Linked DNA regions of Homo sapiens: region 1 is linked to region 2. Evidence: fine-mapped QTL for protein levels in blood plasma. Region 2 holds a variant in brackets. A gene starts in the other region. All regions are shown on their reverse strands.

Region 1 (5,353 bases), not on the chromosome of region 2:
CATTCCCTATCTGTGTTCCTACTTCCCATAGGTAACCACTAGAAATATTTTGTTATATAAACTTTCAGACGTTATAGAAAAGGTAGACAGTTATAGTCTATCCATAGTTATATATAGCTATTATATATGGTAGTATAAGAAGAGAGTTTGTTTTTTAAGCATAATCCTCGCCAACTTGCCCTTTTCATTTACTATCTCATGTCTCCCTCTCCACAGCAGTGTAGTACAGGGGTATCTTTTCCTTCCTTCTCCAAGACACAGCTTAGGGTGCAGCTGATATGCACCAGTCTCAGTCCCAATGCCTGCAGTCACCAAGATAGTTCTGGCAACTTGCCTGGGTGAATGAATGGCTGGACACTGACAAGACCTACCTCTAGAGCTGTGTTGCCCTGGTTCCCACACAACTGCACTTCCAAGATGAGCACTGGCTTCAGCCCCCTCAGATACCTTCTTCTTCCCTGTCCCTCCGGGTCTCCTCCAGGATATGCATGGCAAACTCAGGAGCCTACAGAAGCCTAGATGGTCAAGTAAAAGAGCAAAGCATGCTGGATGGAAGAGTAGTGCAACTGTAACGACTGGGCACGCTAGTCCTCTTTGAAGGGCAGTCACTACTCACACCATCTGATTCTTTCTAAGAAGGGAATATTGTCAGATCTCTACATTTTCAAGAGCAGCCAGAAATCAAATTTTTAATTAAAAAATCTGCTTTTCAAATGTCAGCAGCTAAGATTTTTTAAACATATTCAAGTCTTGATCTTTAATTTTTAAAATAAGCTTTATATTTTAGAACAGTTTTAGATTTACAGCAAAAATGGCAAAGATAGTACAGAGAGTTTCCATATACCCCCACACCCAATTTTCCCTGTTATTAACATCCTATATTAGAATGGTACATTTGTCACAATTAATGAGCCAATATTGATACAGTGTTATTAGTAGTTGACTTACATTTCCTTAGCTTTACCTAATGTCTTTTTTCTATTCCTGGATGCTGTCCAGGATAGCACATTACATTTGGTAGTCATGTGTCTTTAGGTTCCTCTTGGCTACGAGTTTCTCAGACTTCCCTTTTTTGTTTGATCACTGACAGTTTTGAGGCATACTGATCAGGAATTTTGTAGAATGTCCTTCAGTTGGGTTTTTCTGATATTTTTCTTGTGACTAGACTGGGGTTATGGGTTTTCAGGAGCAAGATCACATAGGTAAAGTACCATTCTCATCACATCATATCAAGGGCACATACTATCACATGACTCATCACTGTTGATGATCTTGATCACCTAGTTGAAGTAGTGTTTGTCAGGTTTGTTACTTTCCCCACTTTCCACACTGCACGCTATAAAAGGAAGTCACTCTGCACATCCCACACTTCAGGAGTGGGGAGTTACGCCTCGCCTCTTTGAGGACAGCGTCTCTAAACAAATTATTTGGAATTGTTCTCAGCACAATCTTCCATAACCAGGTCCTACCTACATTTTGGGCTTCATCCCCAGCTGCTCCCTCCCTCTCCCATTCCAGGCTCATCATACTACAGGTCAGCACCTGCAGATCCTGCATGGTGCCATTCTTTCTCATGTCTCTTGCTCTCACTATTGCCACTGTCTATGCATGGATGTTCCTTATCTTTCCCCCTTGCATGCTCAATTCCCCTTTGACCTTCAAGACTGCTCAAGTATGCTCTACTCTAGAAAGTCTTCCCAGAACCCAGTCTGCCTCGAAGGATTTTCCTTGAGTCCCAAAATACCCTGTGCATTTTCCCACCATGGCGTTCATTCCTCTCTATTGTTTATTCTCAACACACTCCCTTGTTAGACTGAGAGTTCTTTGACAGCAGGGCTGTCTTTTTACTTACCTTTCTATCCCCTGTGCTTATATACGGCAAACATCAGACACCGGGTAAATATATTTTGAATGAATGAATGAACAAACAAATGTGCAGAATTCTAGATACAAGATTTCTTCTATGAATTTCCAGTCATTCTGCCTTATCAACAATCACCACATTCTGCCTTGTATTATGGTTGTTTAGGTACTTGTCTTACTTATTTTAGTAGCTCTATTGCTCTTTGAAGGCTATGATCATGTTTTATTTGTACTATAATTTCCAGGTCAGTGTCTTACATATAATAGCTGTTTAATAAATCTTTGTTGAATAAGCAAATGAGTTAATGAACAAATAAATGAAGCTGCCTGCACACATAATTGATGAGAGGGAATCGCACAAGGAAAGGAAGCATAATGAACTGGAAAATAAATGGCAGAATTTTCAAACGAAATGAAGTTGACTTGCCTAGCACATTATTTCCAAATTTTTATCATATGCTAGTAAATATTGTCACATGTTTGTTTAAAGAAATTTAAAAACTTAAATCAATTCTTAATGAAATAGCTACATAACTGCTCCTTAACAACAGAAAGGAGAGTCAAGCCTGATTCATCTCTTAGAGATAGACCTCCCTACAAAAAGAACCACGCTGCTACCCTTAAAAATCACTGTTGTATAACAAAACATGTGTTCCTTTGTCCCCTTTAATAACCAAACGAGTTTATATCAAAAATTTTTTAAATAGCATTTCTCTTTATCTATCTCTAATAAAATATAATTTTTCTAAGTGTCCTGTGCTGGAGAGAAGTAAACAGAAAACAACCATTCTGGAAGAAAAAAAACGTCCTTATAGCAAGATAGATTACCATTGTTATCAACACCAAATTCAACTGCTGCAGAAGAACCTCACTCAGAGGAAACCGAGTTAGGAGAGAATTTAGTTCCTCTTTTTCTTGCACCAAAAAATAAATTTTATGAATATTTCTCAATTAGTATTTGATTAGGAAAACCTGTAGAGGGCGTCCTTGCACCAAGAGCCATAGAGGTTTGCGCAGAACTAGAAAAAAATGTTAAAACCACTCGCTCCGAGTTAAAGAAAATGCCTATTGTGCTGTGAAATTATTATCTTTACCTGGGTGACACTGGCATTATAACATTAAAGTGTTTTAAAAGTAGCCTAATGTTCATACATTATATACATGAATATTCATAGAAATAAAAAATAATGCAATGTTGGGAAACAGGTAAATATTTTTATTGTAAAGGAAGAATCACTGTGAAGCTTTGGATGCAAATAGACTTAATTATGATTTATTTATCAGTATGAGGTATAAGTTACTAAGAGAATGGGCTTTGAAATCAGAGTGTCTGGGATTTGAACCCTTACTCTCATTTACCAGCTGGATATCCACAGTCAACTTACTGGACTTTTTGAGCCCTCTTTCCTCGTCAGTAAAATAAGAATAATAGTAGTACCTACTTAAGAGTTGTGAGGATTAAGTAAGCACTTAAAATAAAAGTACTTTAAAAATTAAGACACTGCAAGTTCAAATCAGTCATAGACTTCTTGTCTAATTCCTTTTTTCCTTTTTTTTTTTTCTATTGGTTGGTTGTATAGCTGCAAATATTTCCTCATTGGAAATCTATATTCTCAGAACCTAACACTGATTTAACTTGATGCCTGCACATGTCCACCATCTCTTCTGTTGTTTCTGTTTGTTTTTCCCTCTTGAGGCATCTGCTACTCTATAAAGGACTGATTGAAACACCACGCCCAGCCCCAGACATTTGATCCTTGAGGCATTTGTCACAGCTTCGGGTACTAAAGAACAAACACAAGTAAATGAACCTTTTATGAGTCCGAAGGCTAAGTTTTTTAATTAAAAACAAAACAAAACAAAACCCTTTTGCTTCCGTTTTCTTTGTGCATCCGAGGAATTAGGCAGGAGGCAAAAATCAGTTCTTTCTGCTGGGCCAGGTGGATAGGTTATGCTGCAGCCCACTGCCGGCCAAGCATGCTTCTCACAGACGAGGCCAGAGCCTTGGTTTTGCCCCCACGCACCTGTGAATTCGGCAACTTTTAAAAAATTATTTTATTTATTTATTTATATATTTTTTGAGACGGAGTCTCGCTCTATCGCCCAGGCTGGAGTGCAGTGCCACGATCTTGGCTTAATGCAACCTCCGCCTCCCGGTTCAAGTGATTCTCCTGCCTCAGCCTCCCGGGTAGCTAGGACTACAGGCCCCCGCCACCATGCCCAGCTAATTTTTGCATTTTTAGTAGAGACGGGGTTTCACCACGCTGGCCAAGCTGGTCTCGAACTCCTGACCTCAGGTGATCCGCCCGCCTTGGCCTCCCAAAGTGCAGGGATTACAGGCGTGAGCCATCGCGCCCGGCCGAATTCAGCAACTTTTAAAAAATATCAGCAAACGTGAAGATATCCACGATGTTAGAGGAGCCCTACCCCGGAGGGTCAGGTACAGCTATCGTCCAGGGCCCAGGGCACTCTTCCGGGCACTGCCGGGTTATCAGGGAGACAGACGGGAATCCCCAAATGCTGGGTGTCGGGCAAGTACCAGCTGGACGCCCTGCGCCTCGAGCCAAGGCCAGCGCCTGCCATCGGCACCATCGGACAGTCGAGCCTCGAGTTTTAACTGCTTGGGAGCGCGCAAAGTGCCAGCCTATCGCAGAACGGAGCGCATAGGGTTGGCGGAGAGAGGAATCCTACTGGCTGAAAGGGAGACGAAGGGCAATTTGCGCCTTCAGTGAGCGCCGGAGGAGGAACAGGAGTCATCACCTCATCATCATCATCATCATCATCATCACCATCACCATCACCATCATCAGCACTCAGTCAAGCCCAGCGTTGTCTGCTCTCCCCATTTCCCTCCCCCGAAGCCTCCCTTGGCCCGAGGAGGTGGCGAGTGATGTCCCAGGGGTCTCTGAGTGCCCTTCTCCGGGTCCGCCAGCCCTACACGCCCACTTCGCGGGCGCTCCACTGGGCGCACCGCACTGTGAATGCAGCCTCGGGGGTCCCTCGCGGCCCCGCCCCCGGGGGGGCCCCACAGCGCCCCCAAGTGGCGGCCGCCCAGGCCTCGCGGGCCCCACTCCTCGCTCGCACCTCGCTCGCGCCAGCCCTTCCCGCTCTTCTGTTCTCGCTCTATTTGCCCCGCTGACTGCTGGCCTCGCCAGCTTTGCCAGTCTTACGTCTCTGCCGCCCCCACTCCCGCCCGCGCCCCATCTTCTTGCGCGACTCGCGCCCGCTGGTCCCCCCCTCCTCCTCCCGCGTCCTGCCTGCCCCCTCCTCCTGCTCTCGCAGGCTCCTTGGCACCCAGGCCGGGAGGCGACGCGCCCAGCCGTCTAAACGGGAACAGCCCTGGCTGAGGGAGCTGCAGCGCAGCAGAGTATCTGACGGCGCCAGGTTGCGTAGGTGCGGCACGAGGAGTTTTCCCGGCAGCGAGGAGGTCCTGAGCAGCATGGCCCGGAGGAGCGCCTTCCCTGCCGCCGCGCTCTGGCTCTGGAGCATC
Region 2 (5,387 bases):
ACCTAAAAGTATTCTTTAAAAAATATCTATCTATATGTATATCACACAACTTTCTATATAGAATATTTTATATTCATTTTAAAATCTTGTCATATGTGGATGTTCTGCGTGATTCACAGCTGTGTCAGAGAAAGGTGATGAGGATAATATTTTGAAAGACAGAATTTCCTATTCTGATATCTGAGTTTATCTTATTTTTAGATCCGTTGATGAGTTCATGTTTTTAAAGACTCTTCCCTCTATGCCTATGGAGCTGACACTTTATTTTATTTTATTTTTAAAAATGAGAGAGTCATTTTAAAATACAATTGACTATGTATAAAAATAGTCTGCCAATCTTGAGGAGGTTTAAATGGTATGTTTTACATCTTCGTGACGGTTTTATTACTCTTAAAATATATCCAACAAAATAAGAAGTTGAGCATCTGAGGCTTTCAATTTTCTCCCTGGTTTATCTGTAATTGCACAATAGAAGATATATACTGGACAGGCCAAACAAGATGCCCTCCTCATTCCCATCTGGAGAACTTCATCCTTCCATTTGCCTAGGCCAGAAAACTTGGAGCCATCCTCTACTTCATCTTTATATGTAATCAGTTAAAAAGTTCTGTTGTCAAAATACCCTATTTCATTGATTCCAAGAGGGACAACTTTTCATGCTTTAACATATATGAAATCAGAATACATCTCACAATCAGTAGTATCTTATATTCCCTCTCACTCAGGCGATAATCCTGACATAGATACCGTTGCCTACACAGGTGCTAACATCAAAACAGCCAGTATCAAACTCACAAAATGAGTGTCAGCCGCTTGGGAGAAAATTATAAGACAATATTGGAACACATTCAACCTCTAGGAACCAAATGGCTGTGGAGGTTGTAGGGAGATGAGGAATCAGAATTACAGGTGCTTAACTGCATTGTCGTAGAAGGAGTCAAAAGTTGGCTAGCTCTATGTAATTGCAGAGCTGAATTGAAAGCCCAGCACCAAGACTTCTGCTTCTGACAAAGATGAACTAACAGGAACCAGATTTAATATTCTGTCTAAAACAATCAAAAAGTCAGATGAAACCATGGTTTTTAAGATATTGGACATCAGGCAAAAAAGGGCAGCAATTCTGTATACTCAGGAAACACATCAGATAAGGCCCAACATTGCCCCAGCTTACTGCCTTGATAGAGTTCCTAGGCTACAGCTTTGGAAGTATGAAGACCTGTAGAGCTCAGTAGATTCCCTGAATTGAGTAGACAAAGCCAAGAGTCCAAGGAGACAAAAACAGTTAGAATTTCTGGGACAAAGTAACAGAAAGGAGAGAGCTATACAGAAGGACAACTCTGGACACCCAAGAGGGTTTCCTTAAAGTAGCCAGCAGCATACTAATCAATACATAAGTGTGAGGAAATTACCCGGCCTGGGGAAAGAACTACACAAAAGAATTATAGAGAAGAGTACACGGTGCTCATACAGGGCTGAGAATAGTATCTTATCCCATCAGCCAAAGTGACAAACTTTGTAAGTCATGGAACATTAAGTAGTCTACTCAGAAAGGTCCCGCCTCAGTAAAAGGGTACAATTAGCTCTAGACCAAACATGGCTTTGGTCCTGTCTACCACATTTTAAGACCCCAAAGGTTCAAACTGATTTCAGTAACTTAACTGCTCCCAGAACACAGCTCAAGGATATTTATAGAAATACAAAAATATCTAGTACCCAAGAAAGTAAAATTTGTAATGTCTGGCATCAAGTCAAAAAATAATGAGGCACGCAAAGAAACAAACAAACAAAAAAAACAGCACATATTAAAGTGAAAAATCAATCAATCCAAACACAGAATGGATATTAAAATAGTTACTATAATGGTGTTCCATAAGTTCATAAGGTTACATACTGAAAAATAAATCTCCAGATCCAGAAAATTTCACTGGGGCATGGTAGCAGCCATTTAAAGAATAAATATATTCAATTCCATACAATCTCTTCCAGAAAAAAAGAAGACAAGCAATTACTTCTCTACTCATCGTTTGAGGCCATTTTGTGCTAATACTAACACCAAACAAAGACAATACAAAAAAGAATACGACAGACCAGTATCTCTCATGAACACAGATAAAAAGCCTCAACAAAATACTGCCGAATCAAACTAGAAATCTATATAAAGAATAATACACCATGACCAAGTACACTTTATCCCAGAAATGCAGAGTTGGTTATTTAAAAACCAATTAATGTAATTCATCACAATAACAATCTAAAGAAGAAAAACCACAGGACTTTGTCAGTTGAGGTAAAAGAGAATTTAATAAAATTCATCATCCCTTCATGTTATTAACTCTCAGCAAACCAGGAAAGGAAGGGAACTTCCTCAATCTGATAAAGGGCATTTATAAAAACCTACAGCTAACATCATACTCAATGGTGAGAAACTGAATGCTTTCCTCTTAAGATTAGGAATAAGATAAGGACCTCCATTGTCATCATTCCTATT[C/T]ACTATTGTATTGCATGCGTAGCCAGTACAATAAGACTACAAAAAAAAAAGTGGCTTACAAATTGAAAAGAGGCAAAACCACTCTTACTTGTAAACAACATGATTGTTTATTGAGAAAATCCCAGTCATCTACCAAAAAACTCAGAGGTATTGAGTGAGTGTATCAAGTTTACATAATACACGGCTAACACACAAAAATCAATCATGTTTCTGTGAACTAGGAATATATAATTGGACATGGAAATAAAGAATACAATGCCAAGCCAAGCGCAGTAACTCCTGTAGTCCCAGCTACTTGGGAGGCTGAGGCAGGTAGATCACTTGAGCTAAGGAATGTGGGTCTGTAGTGTGCTATGATTACATCTGTGAATAGCCACTGCACTTCAGTCTGGGCAACATAGTGAAACCTCATCTCTAATTTTAAAAAAGAGAATATAATGCCATTTGCAATAGTTACAAAAAATACAACAGATGTAAATCATATAAAGTATATGCGATCTTCATGCTGAAAGCTAATAAAGGCTAATCAAAGAGATAAAATAAGACCTAAGTAAACAGAGACATAAAATTCTCATACCTTATAGATTGAGTGACTTAACATGCTAAAGATGTCAATTCCTACCCCCTCCAAATCAATCTGTAGAATTAACACAAAAAAATCCCAGCAAGACTTTTTGTAGATATGGACAAGCAGATAGTAAAATTTATATGGAAAGACAAAGACCCAGAATAGAATAGCCAAAATGAATTTGAAAACAAGAACAAAGTTGGAGAAATCACACTACCACATTTTAAGATTTACCTTAAAGCCACGGTAATAAAAAAAATGGAGTATTGATGAAGGGACAGACACATAGCAGAATAGAGTCCAGAAACAGACCCTCAGAGAAACGGCAATAGATTTTTGACAAGGTTTAAAGACAATTCAAAAGAGAAAAGGCTGTCTTTTTCAACAAATGGTACTGGAAGAATTGGGCGTCTATACGAAAAAAAATTCAAGCTACCTATCAAACTTACACCTTATACAAAAAATAACTGAAAATAGGTCACTGATCTAAAGGTGAAATGTATTTCTGCAAGAAAACACGGAGAAAATCTTTGTGTCCTGGTCTTAGGCAAGAAGTTCTTAGACATGACATTAAAAGCATGAGCCGTAAAAGAAAAAAAATGATAGCGTGGTCTTCATCCAAATGAAAAGCTTTTGCTCTGTGAAAGATAACATTAAGCAATTTTGAATAAAAAAGCTATGATGGAGAAAATATTTCCAATTCAAATATCCCACAAAGGACTTGTACCTAGTATATATAAAGAACTCCCAAAACTCAACAAGAGAAAGTCAAGCAACACATTTTTTAAAAATGAGCAACAGACTTGAACTGACACTATGCAAAAGATGAACAAAGCACACTGTGGTAAGTAGACTAATGTATCCCTCTCCCCTGCCAAATATGTCCTTAAATCTGTGAATGTGTAATATTATGTGGCAAGGGGGAATTAAGGTTGCTAATGGAATTAAGATTGCTAATCAGGTCACCTTAAAATTAAGTGATTATCCTGGATGATCTGAGTGGACTCAATGTAATCACAAACATTCTTTAATATGGAAGAGGCAGGCAGAAGAGGAAGCTTGAGTCAGAGAGAGATCTGAAGATGCTAAGCTACTGACTTTGAAGATGCCAAAGAATGTGCATAGGCTCCAGGAGCAGGAAAATCAAAATTGAAGAAAGAGAAATACTCCCTCAATGCTTCCAGAGCTGTGTTCTGCAAACACCTTGTTTTTAGCCCAGTGAAACCTATTTCAGTTTTCTGACGCCCCCAGAACCATAAAATAATAAATTTGTGTTGCTTTAAATCACTTAGTCTGTGGTAATTAGTTACAGCAGCAATTGCAAGATAATACAACATGAAAAGATGTTAACATTATTAGCCATTAGGAAAATGCAAATAAAAACAAGTATGAAATACCACTACTCACTGATAAGAATGGCTAAAATTTAAAATGGTGGCCAGGTGCCGTGGCTCACACCTGTAATCCCAACACTTTGGGAGGTTGAGGTGGGCAGATCACTTGAGGCCAGGAATTTGAGACCAGCCTGGCCAACATGGCAAAACCCCATCTCTACTAAAAATACAAAAATTACTCAGGCATGATGGTGTGCACCTGTAATCCCAGCTACTTGGGGAGGCTGAAGTGGGAGGATCACCTGAGTCCAGGAGGTCAAGGCTGCAATGAGCTGAGCTGTGATAGTGCCACTGCACTGAAGCCTCAGTGACAGAGTGAGACCCTGTTTCAATAAAAGAAAAAAAGAAGAAAGAAAGAAAAAGAAAAGAAAAGAAAGAAAGAAAGGAAAGAAAGAAAGAAAAAGAAAAAAAGAAAAGAAAGAAAGGAAGGAAGGAAGGAAGGAAGGAAGAAAGACAGAAAGAAAGAAAGAAAGAAAGAAAGAAAAAGAAAGTAAGAAAGAAAGAAAGAAAGAAAGAAAATAAATACAGGTGCAGTATATCTATGATTGGATCACTTCTCATCATTTCCACAGCTACTGGTACAGTCCAAGCCATTGTCATCTGTGGCCTGGCTTAGTGTAATATCTTTCCAACTACAGTCTATTCTCAGTATAGCAGAAATCTGATCAAGTTATTCCTCTGTTCAAAATCCTCCAACAACTTCCCATTTCATTCAGACTTACAAAAAACCCCACAATATCTGTGCCATTCTTCCCCCAGCCTCATATCATTTTCTCTAGCCTTTTTGAAACTCACCTCATTTTAGTCACACTGGCTTCTTTGTTCTTCATGAAATATATCCCGAATGCAAATACCACAGGACGTCTGCACTTGCTTTTCTCTTTTCCTAGAATTTTCTTCTCCCTGACTTCTGCATGGTGACCCCTTTTCACTTCCC

Direction of the effects. Positions count from the first base shown, and alleles are read on the strand shown. Strength reflects both the effect of a copy and how common the allele is.
For the plasma level of the protein whose gene starts at base 5,189 in region 1, T is the high allele of the variant in region 2 and C is the other (weak association).

Evidence for each region. PIP is the posterior inclusion probability: the model's chance that the variant is causal. Protein levels are from antibody-based Olink assays in UK Biobank. Linkage for the fine-mapping came from a reference panel and not from the study's own genotypes, which makes the PIPs less certain.
Region 1: it holds the start of WIF1, and the variant in region 2 is fine-mapped to the plasma level of the WIF1 protein (UK Biobank, PIP 0.98).

The regions. Positions count from the first base shown.
Region 1 is chr12:65,121,141-65,126,493 of GRCh38, reverse strand. It overlaps WIF1 (Wnt inhibitory factor 1), which reads left to right and starts at 5,189. Exons shown (of 10, transcript NM_007191.5): 1 at 5,189-5,353. The coding sequence starts at 5,303. RefSeq lists a silencer at 4,869-5,028.
Region 2 is chr9:18,626,387-18,631,773 of GRCh38, reverse strand. The region is part of intron 5 of ADAMTSL1 (ADAMTS like 1); the gene reads right to left. Among named protein-coding and RNA genes, the nearest start is that of MIR3152, 56 kb to the right of the region's middle. The variant C/T (reference allele first, on the strand shown) is at 2,489.